Linked DNA regions of Homo sapiens. The gene in region 1 interacts genetically with each later gene. Each region holds a gene or a part of one and is shown in the gene's direction. Other genes may lie near its edges.

Evidence for each region. A genetic interaction does not mean that the proteins touch.
Region 2: changes in CAMLG (region 1) and LEO1 impair growth when combined (synthetic growth defect), as found in Homo sapiens cells (one study listed by BioGRID).

What each region holds. Positions count from the first base shown.
Region 1 is NC_000005.10:134,741,548-134,749,011, forward strand, and holds part of CAMLG (guided entry of tail-anchored proteins factor CAMLG), read left to right. Parts: intron 1-2,439; coding exon 2,440-2,505; intron 2,506-7,464. UniProt on the Homo sapiens protein: Required for the post-translational delivery of tail-anchored (TA) proteins to the endoplasmic reticulum.
Region 2 is NC_000015.10:51,961,466-51,968,929, reverse strand, and holds part of LEO1 (RNA polymerase-associated protein LEO1), read left to right. Parts: intron 1-2,425; coding exon 2,426-3,181; intron 3,182-6,436; coding exon 6,437-6,541; intron 6,542-7,464. UniProt on the Homo sapiens protein: Component of the PAF1 complex (PAF1C) which has multiple functions during transcription by RNA polymerase II and is implicated in regulation of development and maintenance of embryonic stem cell pluripotency.

The sequences.
Region 1 (7,464 bases):
AACTAACTTAATGGAAAATGCAAAATGTTAATAATTATGAGTGCTTTTGATCATAGAAGTCATTGCCAGTATTAATATCTACCAGATCCATGTGGCTGTTTGAAGATATATTATTAACTTTGCTATTCATCTCATAGAATGAAGTGTTCTGGTTAAATACAGAGCCTAATAATTACTGTTGGCCCTCCATATCAGTTGGTTCTGCACCCTATGTGGATTCAACCAATTGTGGATTGAAAATATTTGGATTTAGCCGGGCGTGGTGGTGCACGCCTGTAATCCCAGTTACTTGGGAGGCTGAGGCAGGAGAATCGCTTGAACCCGGGAGGTGGAGGTTGCAGTGAGCCAGGATAACGGCACTGCACTCCAGCCTGGGTGACAGAGTGAGACCCCGTCTCAAAAATATATGTATGTGTATATATTTGGGGGAAAAATAACAATACAACAATAACAAATAGTAAATAATACAAATAAAAACAGTATAACAACTATTTACATTGCATTAGGCATAAAAAATCTAGAAATGATTTAAAGTATATGGGAGGAAGTGAGTAGGTTATATTTACTGTGCCGTTTTACATAAGGGACTTGAGCATCTATGGATTTTGGTATCAGGAGGAACCTGGTACCAGTCCTCTGCTGATACTGAGGGATGACTGTACTAAAACCCATTTTTCATTCTACGGACCTTTCTCATTGTTTTGCATACATTAATTCATCTAATCCTCATTCTTATGAACTTGGTATTATGTGAATCCATTGGGAAATGAAGACTCAGAGAGGTTAAACCATTTGCCCAAGGTCACACAGCTACTAAGCGGTGCTAGGATTAAACCCTGGCAGTTTCAGTCCTTAACCAAAGGGTTAAGTGCTTTACATATATATACTGTATATTATCAATTTTCAAATAATTTGAAATAGTAAAATGCAGTTCCTCTGGTCCTGAATATGAGGTAATCTTCCTATGGTTCAGAAGACATTTCAGCATTTCCTAATATATCATAATGAGTCCATTTTGGTTGTACCATGATGTAGTCATTTTGTTTTATAGTATATTAAAGAATGCAGAAAAGCATAGCTCATAGTTCAGTGTCTTGCTCTGAGGTTTTTCCATTCAGTAGACATTTTAAGTATATGTACCAGGCACATAAATATCCAGATAATTAAAGTTTATATCATTAAGCAAAACAGTTTTTGTAAATCTTTTTTTTTTTGAGGTGGAGTTTCTTTCGCCAGGCTGGAGTGCAGTGATGTGATCTTGGCTCACTGCAACCTCCACCTCCTGGGTTCAAGCGATTCTCCTGCCTTAGCCTCCCGAGTAGCTGGGACTACAGGCATGTGCCAACACGCACGGCTAATTTTTTGTATTTTTAGTAGAGATGGGGTTTCACCGTGTTAGCCAGGATGGTCTCCATCTCCTGACCTCATGATCCACCCAACTCTGCCTCCCAAAGTGCTGGGATTACAGGCATGAGCCGCCGCACCCAGCCAAGCATTTAGTTTTGTTGTTGTTGTTGTTTTAGAGATAGGATCTTGCTATGGTGTCCAGGCTGGACTAGAACTTCTGGGCTCAAGCAGTCCTCCTGCCTCAGCCTTCTGCATAGCTGGAAGAATGCCACGTATTTTGAGTGCTGGGCCTTTTCTGTATGCTTCCTGGATATCAATTAATTCCCTCTGGGTGACCGAGATGTTACCGCATCTGTGTTACTGTGTTAAACATCTGTCACCATTTAATACTTTAAATAATTTAAAAGATAAGTTTTTATGAGAGAAGACAGTTTTGGGGACGCTAAAAGAATATGAAAGAATTGTATGACTTGAGAAACATATTTTATGTTAGGAAATCAAATATTTTATTTTCTTCACCCTTCTGCAGAAAAAAGATTACTTTTAACCATTAAAATTACTATTTTATGGGAGGCTGAGGCAGGAGAATTGCTTGGACTGGGGAGGCAGGGGTTGCAGTGAGCTGAGATTGAGCCACTGCACTCCAGCCTGGGTGACAGAGCGAGACTCCATCTTAAAAAAAAAAAGCAATTGCCAGGCGCGGTGTCTCATACCTGTAATCCCAGCATGTTGGGAGGCCGAGGTGGGTGGATCACGAGGTCAGGAGTTCTAGACCATACTGGCCAACATGGTGAAACCCTGTCTCTACTAAAAATACAAAAATTAGCCAGGTGTGGTGGCGGGCGCCTGTAATCCCATCTACTCAGAAGGCTGAGGCACGAGCATCGCTTGAATCTGGGAGGTGGATGTTGCCATGAACCAAGATCGTGCCACTGCACTCAGCCTGGGTGACAGAGGAAGACTCCGTCTCAAAAAATAATAATAACAACATTTTCTTACAGCTTTTGCTTGGAATTTTCTAGCTGCTGTTTGATTTATTGTGATTTGAATGATTATGTTGGAAATATTTAATTTTATCTTCTATCTTCACAGTCCATATTTGCTCCATTTCTTACTTTACAACTTGCGTACATGGGATTATACAAATATTTTCCCAAGGTAAATTAATTTTTTTTCTAAATTTCGATGATGTGTTTGGATTGATTTATGACTAGCTAATTGAAGGAACTTAAAAATGTTAGTCCTGCTTACGGTCTGAATCAGTGCTACTCAAAGTGTGGTTTGCCCACTTATCTCCAAACTATGTGTTTGTGTTTGTTATACATTAAGTTCAAAAAATGAGTAATTGGCCGGGCGCAGTGGCTCACGCCTGTAATCCCCACACTCTAAGAGGCTGAGGTGGGTGGATCACCTGAGGTCAGGAGTTCAAGACCAGCCTGGCCAACATGGTGCAACCCCATCTCTGCTAAAAATACAAAAATTAGCCAGGTATGGTGACGCACACCTGTAATTCCAGCTACTCAGGAGGCTGAGGCAGGAGAGTTGCTCCAACCCAGGAGGCAGAGGTTGCAGTGAGCCAAGATTGCGCCACTGCACTGCTCCAGTCTGGGTGACAGAGTGAGACTCTGTCTCCAAAAAAAAAAAAAAAAAAAGAGTAATTAGAAACTTTTATAGCAATTTGACATTGCCATAACATTGTTATTCTGTTTTACAAAAATACTGTGGATTGAGGTCCTTCATGAAAAAGTGTGAATAGTACTTGTTTAAGCAAAGTATTAAATTTAATTAGTAAATTTAGTAATTCATTTTGTCTATAATAAAGGAAATTAATTAAAAAATGGATTTGATTATCTCATTGTACTTCATATTGGACACTTAATAGCAGTGCACTTTATCTTCAGTGTTGAGGGCCTGATATTTGCAATAAATATTTGGCCAATATTACAGAACAGAATGATGTTGAGAGTCAATGTTTACCTGGCCTACTTGACTACAGATATATACAGTTTTATGAGGCTTGGCTTGCCTGACATAGACGATAGCCTAACTAGTGTGATCGAATTTTGTGGGAGCTTTTTGCTGAAAAAATTGCTACTTGGCTGTCTGCGTGTTATATTTAATGGGCTGACAGACCTGTGTATGATTTTAATGGATTTGAAGCATTTGTATTTTTGAAGGGTCAAATAGGTCAAATATAAGAAGTAAAAGAGTAAATAACATTGTAATTTTAATTAAGCATTTGTTTAGAAATTCACCTTTGAGGCGGGGCGCGGTGGCTCACGCCTGTAATCCCAGCACTTAGGGAGGCTGAGGCAGGTGGATCACGAGGTCAAGAGATCGAGAGCATCCTGGCTGACAGGGTGAAATCCCATCTCTACTAAAAATACAAAAGTTAGCCGGGCGTGGTGGCAGGCACCTGTAGTCCCAGCTACTCGGGAGGCTGAGGCAGGAGAATGGCGTGAACCTGGGAGGCGGAGCTTGCAGTGAGCCGAGATTGCGCCACTGTACTCCAGCAGCCTGGGCGACAGAGCGAGACTCCTCAAAAAAAAAAAAAAAAGAAAGAAATTCACCTTTGAGGCTGGGCGCCGTGGCTCACGCCCTAATCCCAGCACTTTCGGAGGCTGAGGGGGGTGGATCACCTGAGGTCAGGAGCTCGAGACTGGCCTGGCCAACATGGCGAAACCCCATCTCTACTAAAAATATAAAAATTACCCAGGCATGGTTGCGGGTGCCTGTAATCCCAGCTACTTGGGAGGCTGAGGCAGGGAGAATCACTTGAAACTGGGAGGTGGAGGTTGCAGTGAGCCCAGACTGTGCCATTGCACTCCAGCCTGGGCAACAGAGCGAGACTGTCTCAAAAAAAAAAAAAGAAAATCACCTTTGAAACATTGATTGTAGTTTTGCAGTAGCAAAGTTTGGAACCTAAATGTCCACTGAGTGACTACATTAAAAAAAAAAAATTGGCCAGGCACGGTGGCTCATGCCTGTAATCCCAGCACTTTGGGAGGCCGAGGCGGGCGGATCAGCTGAGGTCGGGATTTCGAGACCAGCCTGACCAACATGGAGAAACCCCGTCTCTACTACAAATTCAAAATTAGCCAGGCATGGTGGCGCATGCCTGTAATCCCAGCTACTCAGGAGGCTGAGGCAGGGGAATCACTTGAACCCAGGAGGTGGAGGTTGTGGTGAGCCGAGATCGCACCATTGCACTTCAGCCTGGGCAACAAAGCAAAACTCCATCTCAAAAAAAAAAAAAAAAAAAAATTATAACGTATCTATTCAGAATGAAGATGCTCTCAATGTACTGACAATGGTAAGCTCTCCAAGAAATATTAAGAGAAAAAAAAACAAAATTCAGAATAGAATCTATAGAATCTATACTAATTTCTTTTTGAAAAGAAAAAATAATGTATTATTTGATTTTGCTTATATATGCATAAACAAACTGAAAGACTATACATGAAATTATTAACAATACTTATGTGTGTGATAGAGATGTATATATGGGTACTATGTAAATGGAAGAGAGAAAAGGGAGACTTTATATATTCTCCCAACAAAACAGCATTTTGTTATAGCAGGGTTTTTTTTGCTTGTTTGTTTTTGAGACAGAGTATCACTCTGTCGCCCAGGCTGAAGTGCAGTGGCACGATCTCAGCTCACTGCAGCCTCCGCCTCCTGTGTTCATTCTCCTGCCTCAGCCTGCCAAGTAGCTGTGACTACAGGTGTGAGTGACCACACCCACTTAATTTTTGTATTTTTAGTAGAGACGAGGTGTCACCGTGTTGGTCAGTCTGGTCTGGAACTCCCAGCCTCAGGTGATCTGCCCACCTGGGCCTTCCAAAGTGCTGGGATTACAGGTGTGAGCCACTGCACCTGGCCTGTTATAGCAGTTTTTAAACACAAAAGTTGGCCAGGCGTGGTGCCTCACGCCTGTAATCCCAGCACTTTGGAAGGCCATGGTGGGCAGATCACCTGAGGCTGGGAGTTCTTGACCAACCTGGCCAACATGGTGAAACGCTATGTCTGCTGAAAATACAAAAATTAGCTTGGCATGGTGGGTACAGACCTGTAATCCCAGCTACTCAGTGTCTGAGGCAGGAGAATTGCTGACCCGGTGGCAGAGGTTTACAGTGAGCCAAGACAGCGCCACTGCACTCCAGCCTGGGCGACAGAGCAAGACTCCATCTCAAAAATAAATAAACACAAAAGTTGAAAGAATTGTGCCGTGAACACCCATTTATATAATACCAACGACCTAGATTCTACAATTAACATCTTATTATATTATGTATCTATCAGGTTTTCTTTTATTTTTCAAACCCAAGATAATCTCTGTAAAGTTTTTCCATCAAATTTTTCTTGATGCATTTCAAAGTATGTTGTAGGTGTACACATCGGTATACCTCACCCCTCTTACATAACACTGACTTACAATTTACTGTTTTAAGGTTCTTTAGGTAATTTTTTTTTTTTGAGACGAGGCTTGCTCTGTCACCCAGGCTGGAGTGCCATCTCGGCTCACTGCAAGCTCCGCCTTCCGGGTTCACACCATTCTCCTACCTCAGCTTCCCAAGTAGCTGGGACTACAGGCGCCCGCCATCACGGCCGGCTAATTTTTTTTTGTATTTTTAGTAGAGACGGGGTTTCACCGTGTTAGCCAGGATGGTCTCGATCTCCTGACCTCATGATCCGCCTGCCTCGGCCCCCCAAAGTGCTGGGATTACAGGCATGAGCCACCATGCTCGGCATTTTTTTTTTTTTTTGAGACGGAGTCTCGCTCTGTCACCAGGCAGGAGTGCAGTGGCACAATCTTGGCTCACTGCAACCTCCACCTCCCAGGTTCAAGCGATTCTTCCACCTCAGCCTCCCGAATAGCGGGGACTACAGGCACACGCCACCAAGCCCAGCTAATTTTTGTAATTTTAGTAGAGACGGGGTTTCACCATGCTGACCAGGATGGTCTCTTTCTTTTTTTTTTTTTTTGAGATGGAGTCTTGCTCTTTCGCCAGGCTGGAGTGCAGTGGCGAGATCTCAGCTCACCACAACCTCCGCCTCCCAGGTTCAAGCGATTCCCCTGCCTCAGCCTCCCAAGTAGCTGGGATTACAGGCATGTGCCACCACACCTGGCTAATTTTTTTTGTATTTCAGTAGAGACGGGGTTTCACCATGTTGGCCAAGACAGCCTTGATCTCCTGACCTGATTATCTGCCCACCTCGGCCTCCTAAAGTGCTAGAATTAGCTGGTCTCTGGTCTCTATCTCTTGACCTTGTGATTCGCCCACCTCCGCTTCCCAAAGTGCTGGGATTACAGGTGTGAGCCACCGCACCTGGCTTTTAGGTAAAATTTTAAGGTAAAATTAGTTCTGAGGCCGGGTGCAGTGGTTCACACCTGTAATCCCAGCACTTTGGGAGGCCGAGATGGGCGGATCACCTGAAGTCAGGAGTTCAAGACCAGTGTGGCCAACATGGTGAAACCCCATCTCTACAAAAATTTGCCGGGCATGATGGTGGGTACCTATAATCCCAGCTACCGGGGAGGCTGAGGTGGGAGAATCGCTTGAACCCAGAAGGCGGAGGTTGCAGTGGGCCGAGATCCTGCCATTGCACTCCAGCCTGGTCGACAGAGCAAGACTACGTCTCAAACAAAAAAAATTAGTTCTAATATGAAGAGTAGGGTACCAGCGTAATTAATTGATTGCTTGAAATGCTTGTCTTAATTGTACCATTTAATACGTTTGTTATCCTATGAAACCCATACCTCTTTCAAGGTTTATAACTTCACTGTCACCCCAGGAGTTTCTTTCATGCTCCTTTCCAGGCAGTCCCAGTCCCTATACCCCAAAGAACTTTTTCCCACGATAGATTAGTTGTGTCTGGCATAGTAATCCATGTAAGTGGGATCATTCTTGATTTTACTTTTTTGTGCAAGCCTTCTTTATTCCGCATGATATTTTTGAGATTTATCCATGTTGTTGGATAAATCAGTAGTTAATTCCTTTTTTTTTCTTGGCTCAGTAATACTACATTGTATGACTATATCCATTTATCTAGTCTCCTATAGATGGACATCCTGGTTGTTTTCAGTTTTGGGGTTATTATGACTAAAACTAAGAG
Region 2 (7,464 bases), on another chromosome or scaffold:
TGTTCTTTGTATATTTTGGATAAAGACACTTATCAGATACATGGTTTGCAAATATTTTCTTCCATTCTGTAGGTTGTTTTTTCACTTTCCTTTTTTTTTTTGAGACGGAGTCTTGCTCTGTCGCCCAGGCTGGAGTGCAGTGGCGCAATCTCGGCTTACAGCAACCTCCGCCTTCTGGGTTCAAGTGATTATTCTGCTTCAGCCTCCCAAGTAGCTGGGACTACAGGCATGCACCACCACGCCTGGCTAATTTTTGTATTTTTAGTAGAGATGGGGTTTCACCATATTGGCCAGGCTGTTCTCAAACTCCTGACCTCGTGATCCACCCACCTCAGCCTCCCAAAGTGCTGGGATTACAGGCGTGAGCCACTGCGCCTGGCCTTCACTTACTTTTTTTTTTTGGAGACAGAGTCTCCCCTTTCATGCAGTGGCACGATCTCGGCTCACTGCAACCTCCGCTTCCTAGGTTTAAGGGATTCTTATGCCTCATTATTCCCAGTAGCTGGGATTACAGGCGTGTGCCCCCATGCCCAGCTAATTTTTGTATTTTTAGTAGACAGGGTTTCACCATGTTGGTCAGGCTGGTCTGGAACTCCTGACCTCAGGTGATCTTCCCACCTTGGGCTCCTAGAGTGCTGAGATTACAGGCATGAGCCACCGCACCCAGCCAAAAGATTTTATTGTCCTCTAAGACATTAACCAGTTTTGAACTTAACTTAGCAATATTATGTATTTATTTATTTATTTGAGATGGAGTCTTGGTCTGTTGCCCAGGCTGGAGTGCAGTGCTATGATCTTGGCTCACTGCAACCTCCATCTCCTGGGTTCAAGCGATTGTCCTGCCTCAGCCTCCCAAGTAGTGGGCTCACAGGCGTAAGCCACCATGCCTGGCTAATTTTTGTATTTTTAGTAGAGATGGGGTTTCACCATGTTGGCCAGGCTGATCTCAAACTCCTGACCTCAGGTGATCCAGCCACCTTGGCTTCCCAAAGTGTTGGGATTACAGGCATGAGCCACTGCGCCGGGCCTACTTTCTTAATAACGTCCTTTGCTGCACAAAAGTTTTTCATTTTGTGGAAGTCCAATTTATGTTTTCTTTTGTCTTCCATATCGTCTTAGTTTTTGAAGCATAATTTTACTGAATATAAAATTCTTGGTTGACAGTCTTTCTTTTTAGCACTTTGAATGTGTCCTCTTATGGATGGCTCTGGGATTCCTTGGTTTCTGATGAAAAATCAGCTGTTACTCTTATTGAGCGTTCCTCATATGGGATGAACTGCTTCTCTTTTGCCCGCTTTTGGAATTGTTTCTTTGTCTTTGACAGTCTGATAACAATGTTTCTAGGTGTAAACCTCTGTAAGTTTATCCTACTTGTCATTTGTTGAACTTGTTGGATGTGTAGATCTATATTTTTCATAAATTTGGGAGTTCTTCAGCTATCATTTATTTATTCTTTTGAGACAGAGTCTCGCTTTGTCACTCAGGCTAGAGTGCAATGGTGTGGTCTCGGCTCACTGCAACCTCCACCTCCTGGATCCAAGCGATTTTCCTGTTTCAGCCTCTCAAGTAGCTGGGATTACAGGCTTGCGCCACCATACCTGGCTAACTTTTGTATTTTTAGTAGAGATGGGGTTTTGCCATGTTGGCCAGCCTGGTCTCGAACTCCTGACCTCAAGTGATCTGCCCGCCTTGGCCTCCCAAAGTGCTGGGATTACAGGTGTGAACCACCATGCCTGGCCTCAGCTATTATTTAAGAATCTTTTTCTGCTCATTTCTCTTCTTCTGAGACTCCATTATGCATACATTGGTATAACTTAAGGTGTCCCATAAATCTTCTAGACTCCGTTCCTTTCTCTTTATTCTTTTTTCTTTCTGTTTCTCAGATTGGACAGTCGAACTGAGGTATCTTCAAGTTTACTGATTCTTTCTTTTTCCTGCTCAAATCTTTGGTTGAGCCCCTCTAGTGACTCTTTGATTTTAGTAAATATATTTTTCTTTTTCTTTTTCTTTTTTTTCTTTGAGACAAAGTCTCACTCTGTCGCCCAGGCTGGAGTGCAGTGGCTTGATCTCCGCTCACTGCAACTTCTGCCTCCCGGGTTCAAGTGATTCTCCTGTCTCAGCCTCCTGAGTAGCTGGGATTACAGGCATGTGCAACCATGCCTGGCTAAATTTTGTATTTTTAGTAGAGACAGGGTTTCGCTATGTTTGTCAGGCTGGTCTCGAACTCCTGACCTCAGGTGATCTGCCTGCCTCGGCTTCCCAAAGTGCTGGGATTACAGGCGTGAGCCACTGCACCCGGCCTTAGAATGTTAATTCTAACAGTTTTTGCCAGTTTCTTCATTGCTTTTATGTTGGGATGGACTTTGGGACTGCCTTACTCTGCCTTTTTTTGCTTATGTTATCCTATGTTTATATGACCCCATAGATTCTGATTCTGGATCTGACTCAGATTCTGATCAAGAGAATGCTGCCTCTGGCAGTAATGCCTCTGGAAGTGAAAGTGATCAGGATGAAAGAGGTGATTCAGGACAACCAAGTAATAAGGAACTGTTTGGAGATGACAGTGAGGACGAGGGAGCTTCACATCATAGTGGTAGTGATAATCACTCTGAAAGATCAGACAATAGATCAGAAGCTTCTGAGCGTTCTGACCATGAGGACAATGACCCCTCAGATGTAGATCAGCACAGTGGATCAGAAGCCCCTAATGATGATGAAGACGAAGGTCATAGATCGGATGGAGGGAGCCATCATTCAGAAGCAGAAGGTTCTGAAAAAGCACATTCAGATGATGAAAAATGGGGCAGAGAAGATAAAAGTGACCAGTCAGATGATGAAAAGATACAAAATTCTGATGATGAGGAGAGGGCACAAGGATCTGATGAAGATAAGCTGCAGAATTCTGACGATGATGAGAAAATGCAGAACACAGATGATGAGGAGAGGCCTCAGCTTTCCGATGATGAGAGACAACAGCTATCTGAGGAGGAAAAGGCTAATTCTGATGATGAACGGCCGGTAGCTTCTGATAATGATGATGAGAAACAGAATTCTGATGATGAAGAACAACCACAGCTGTCTGATGAAGAGAAAATGCAAAATTCTGATGATGAAAGGCCACAGGCCTCAGATGAAGAACACAGGCATTCAGATGATGAAGAGGAACAGGATCATAAATCAGGTAATACATTTATGAGAACCAGAATGGCTCAGAAAGAAGCATTCAGATACAGCAGGGACCCATTTAGTCTTTATTCCCATCTTTATTACCCTGTTTTTTCTCTTCTGTCCCCTCCCTTTCAAACTTTTCTAACTCTAGAATACATTTTGCTTCTTTTAAATCTTTCTAATCCACTTATTCTTTCTTACTCCTTTCCCTTCCATTTGTTAATGGATAGGTCTGGGGGAAAACAATTTAAAGAGGACTTAAAATTGAGTCTTAGAGGGAGGGATATGGTGTAAGAAGAGCTGATAATGAGTTAAGTTGATTCCATTTCTGTGGATAACTGAAGAGCATGCCTCATGTGAGAGAATAGATTAGCCTGGGGAAAAAAACCATACCATTGAAGTGTCCCCACAGAGCAGCTGTACTGAGATGTGGGCACCATTGCTGCAGCTCAGCTTTTTGAGATCCAAAATTTGATCATCCAGAGATGGTCAAGCTCTAAGGAGTTTACTCAAACTAGTCAAATTTACAAGATATTAATGTATAAAATTGAATTGCAAAATTGTTTCAAGAGGATCAGTTATTTCTCCCTTATCACCCCATATGTTTCCCCGGGGGCAAATCTAGCGTGGATGGCAAATTATAATAATCAGGAGGTTGCCCAGGGAGTATAATATGTAGAAAGTGCAAACATGGCTGGGTGATCTCAATGGACAGTGTTACTGAGCCAAGACAGATTGATGGGTGTATCCTCACCCTACAGAGACGAGCTTGGGTTACAGCACTCATTCCCTAAAGACTACAGGAGGCATACACCTGAACTTTGGTTCCTGGACCTGCTTTTATCATTGCCATTTAGACTATTCTGCTCAAGTTAACACATTCTTCATATAGAATGTACAAAAAATTAGAGATCATATTTCTTTGTATTATATAAAAGTTACCTTAATTAAGTTGAAGTCTTCCTGAAATACCTGGATTGCTTCATTTCCATAGGTGATTGATTATATTAATTATATTTTGATCCTATCTTCTTAGCTTAAATATGAGGGCATCTAACACACACCTCACAGGACAGGATTCAGAAACCACATCTTGGTGTTATTAGAAGAGGAGGGCAGCATATTTCCAGAGATGAATATAGATCTGTGTAGACTATGGGACTGCAGTAAGTTTTCAATAACTAATTCAGAGTAGAGGTTTTTTTTTTTTTTTTAACACTTTAAGTTCTAGGGTACATGTGCACAACGTGCAGGTTTGTTACATAGGTATACATGTGCCATGTTGGTGTGCTGCACCCATCAACTCGTCATTTACATTAGGCATTTCTCCTAATGCTATCCCTCCCCCTGCCCCTCACCCCATGACAGGCCCCGGTGTGTGATGTTCCCTGCCCTGTGTCCAACTGTTTTCATTACTCAGTTCCCACCTATGAGTGAGAACATGCGGTGTTTGGTTTTCTGTCCTTGTGATAGTTTGCTGAGAATGATGGTTTCCAGCTTCATCCATGTCCCTCATGTCCCTGCAAAGGACATGAACTCATCCTTTTTTTTTTTTTGAGACGGAGTCTCGCTCTGTCTCCCAGGCTGGAGTGTAGTGGCATGATCTCAGCTCACTGCAAGCTCCGCCTCCTGGGTTCACGCCATTCTCCTGCCTCAGCCTCCCGAGTAGCTGGGACTACAGGCACCCGCCACCACGCCCGGCTAATTTTTTGTATTTTTAGTAGAGACAGGGTTTCACCGTGTTAGCCAGGATGGTCTCGATCTCCTGACCTCGTGATCCGCCTGCTTCGGCCTCCCAAAGTGCTGGGATTACAGGCGTGAGCCACTGCGCCCGGCCACTCATTTTTTTTTTTTTTTTTTTTTTGAGACAGAGTCTCTGTCATCCAGGCTGGAGTGCAGTGGCACCATCTTGGCTCACTGCAATCTCCACCTCCTGGGTTCAAGCAATTCTTCTGCCTCAGCTTCCTGAGTAGCTGGGATTAAAGGTGTGCACCACCAAACCCAGCTAATTTTTGTATTTGTAGTAGAGAGGAAGTTTCCCCATGTTGGCCTGGCCGGTCTCGAACTCCTGATCTCAGGTGATCTGCCCACCTTGGCCTCCCAAAGTGCTGGGATTACAGGCAAGAGCCACCATGCCTGGCCGAAAGTAGGGCTGTTTTTACTGTTACCAGAAAGAATCTTTAAGGCTCATGTACTACATCCCAAATACTAGAAGACCAAGTCAAGGGCAGGGTCATAGTAGGGAACCTTGTAGCTGGTCATTCTGCTTATCTCTTACTAGTTCAACAGTGGTTCTGTTGATTTTTGTGACATTTTTACGTAAATAATTGGCCCTTCTAGAAATAATGATATATTTGTCAGTTCCTTTTTAATCTTTTTACCTTTTTTTCCCTGAAATTTGTCTTATGTAAATTTGATAAGTTTTAGTGCTACTTTTCTCATTTCTACCAAGTTTTTGTACTTGCAAAGCCAGTATATTTATTTATTTGAGACAGTCTCGCTCTGTCACCCAGGCTGGAGTGCAGTGGTGCGATCTTGGCTCACTGCACCATCAGTCTCCCAGGTTCAAATGATTCTCTTGCCTCAGCCTCCTAAGTAGCTGGGACTACAGGTGCACGCTACCACACCCGGCTAATTTTTGTATTTGTAGTAGAGATGGGTTTCACCATGTTGGCCAGGCTGGTCTTGAATTCCTGACCTCAAGTGATCCACCCACCTCGTCCTCTCAAAGTGCTGGGATTACAGGCATGAGCCACCACAACTGGCACCAGTATTTATTTTAAGAATTCTGTTTTTTAAATTAACACACACTAGAGTTAATTTTTTGGGGGGGGGGCATGTTCTGCATGTACAGCTCTATTCATGTTAACATATCTATAGATTTGTCTAACCACCACCACACTCAGGATGCAGAATCGCTGTCACACTGAAAAACTCCCTTATGCTATCCCTTTTGAGTCGTATCTTTCTGCTACCCCTAAACCCTGGCACCTACTGGTCTTTTCTGTCACTAAACTTTTGGTTTTTTGGAAATGTCATATAAATAGAGTTATACAGTAAGTATGTAGTCTTTCAGATTGGCCTCTTTAACTTGGCATATAGCATTTTTGATTCATCCAATTGGTTACATGTATCAGCAGTTCATTCCTCTTTATTGCTGAGTAGTAGTCCATTGTATCACAATTTGTTTATCTCCAATATTGCTTTTAAAACACAAAATTCAACTAATGCGACTGATTATGCAGAACTTCTAATTCTACCCTTATAGAATCTGCAAGAGGCAGTGATAGTGAAGATGAAGTTTTACGAATGAAACGCAAGAATGCGATTGCATCTGATTCAGAAGCGGATAGTGACACTGAGGTGCCAAAAGGTATCCCTATTATTATATATATATGTATATTTCCATACCTCTTTCTGTATTTAACTGTAGTGCATTTCTAACCCTGAGTGTGTTTACCCCAGATCGCCAGACCCACAGAATAAGAGTGTGGATACGCTCAGTGTACTCAGAGAAGTTATATAGCTATGAGAAGCTGCTCATGCTTAATTAGTTGAAGAAGAACCTGCCTCTTTGTAGTTTTTTTTTTTTTTTTTAAGAGACAGAGTCTTGCTCTGTCACCCACGCTGGAGTGCAGTGGTGCAAGCTCAGCTTATTGCAACTGCTGCCTCCTGGGTTCAAGCAATTCTCCTCCCTCAGCCTCCTGGTAGCTGGAATTACAGGAACGTACCACCATGCCTGGCTAAATTTTTTGTATTTTTAGTAGAGGTGGGGTTTCACTATGTTGGCCAGGTTGGTCTCGAACTCCTGATCTCAAGTGTTCCACCCACCTCAGCCTCCCGAAGTGCTGGGATTACAGGCGTGAATCACTGCGCCCAGTCTGTTTATAGTTAGAGTGAATTCATTATTAGGGGGCTGACCTTCTTATTGGGATGGAGGTTACAATGTCCATTCTTCACTTTGAATAATGACAGTCTCGGTGTTTTGTTCCTAAGTTCTTGACTTAGATGAAGAAACTGATTCTTTGAGCTGTGAGTTAGATGAAGAGCTCATAAAAACCCAGTGTTGGCTGGGTGCAGTGGCTCACGCCTGTAATCCCAGCACTTTGGGAGGCCAAGGTGGGTGGATCACTTGAGGCCAGGAGTTCAAGACCAGCTTGGCCAACATGGTGAAGCCCTGTCTGTACTAAAAATACAAAACATTAGCGGGGCGAGGTGGTGTGCATCTGTAGTCCCAGCTACTTGGGAGGCTGAGGCACGAGAATCGCTTGTGCTCGGGAGGCAGAGGTTGCAGTA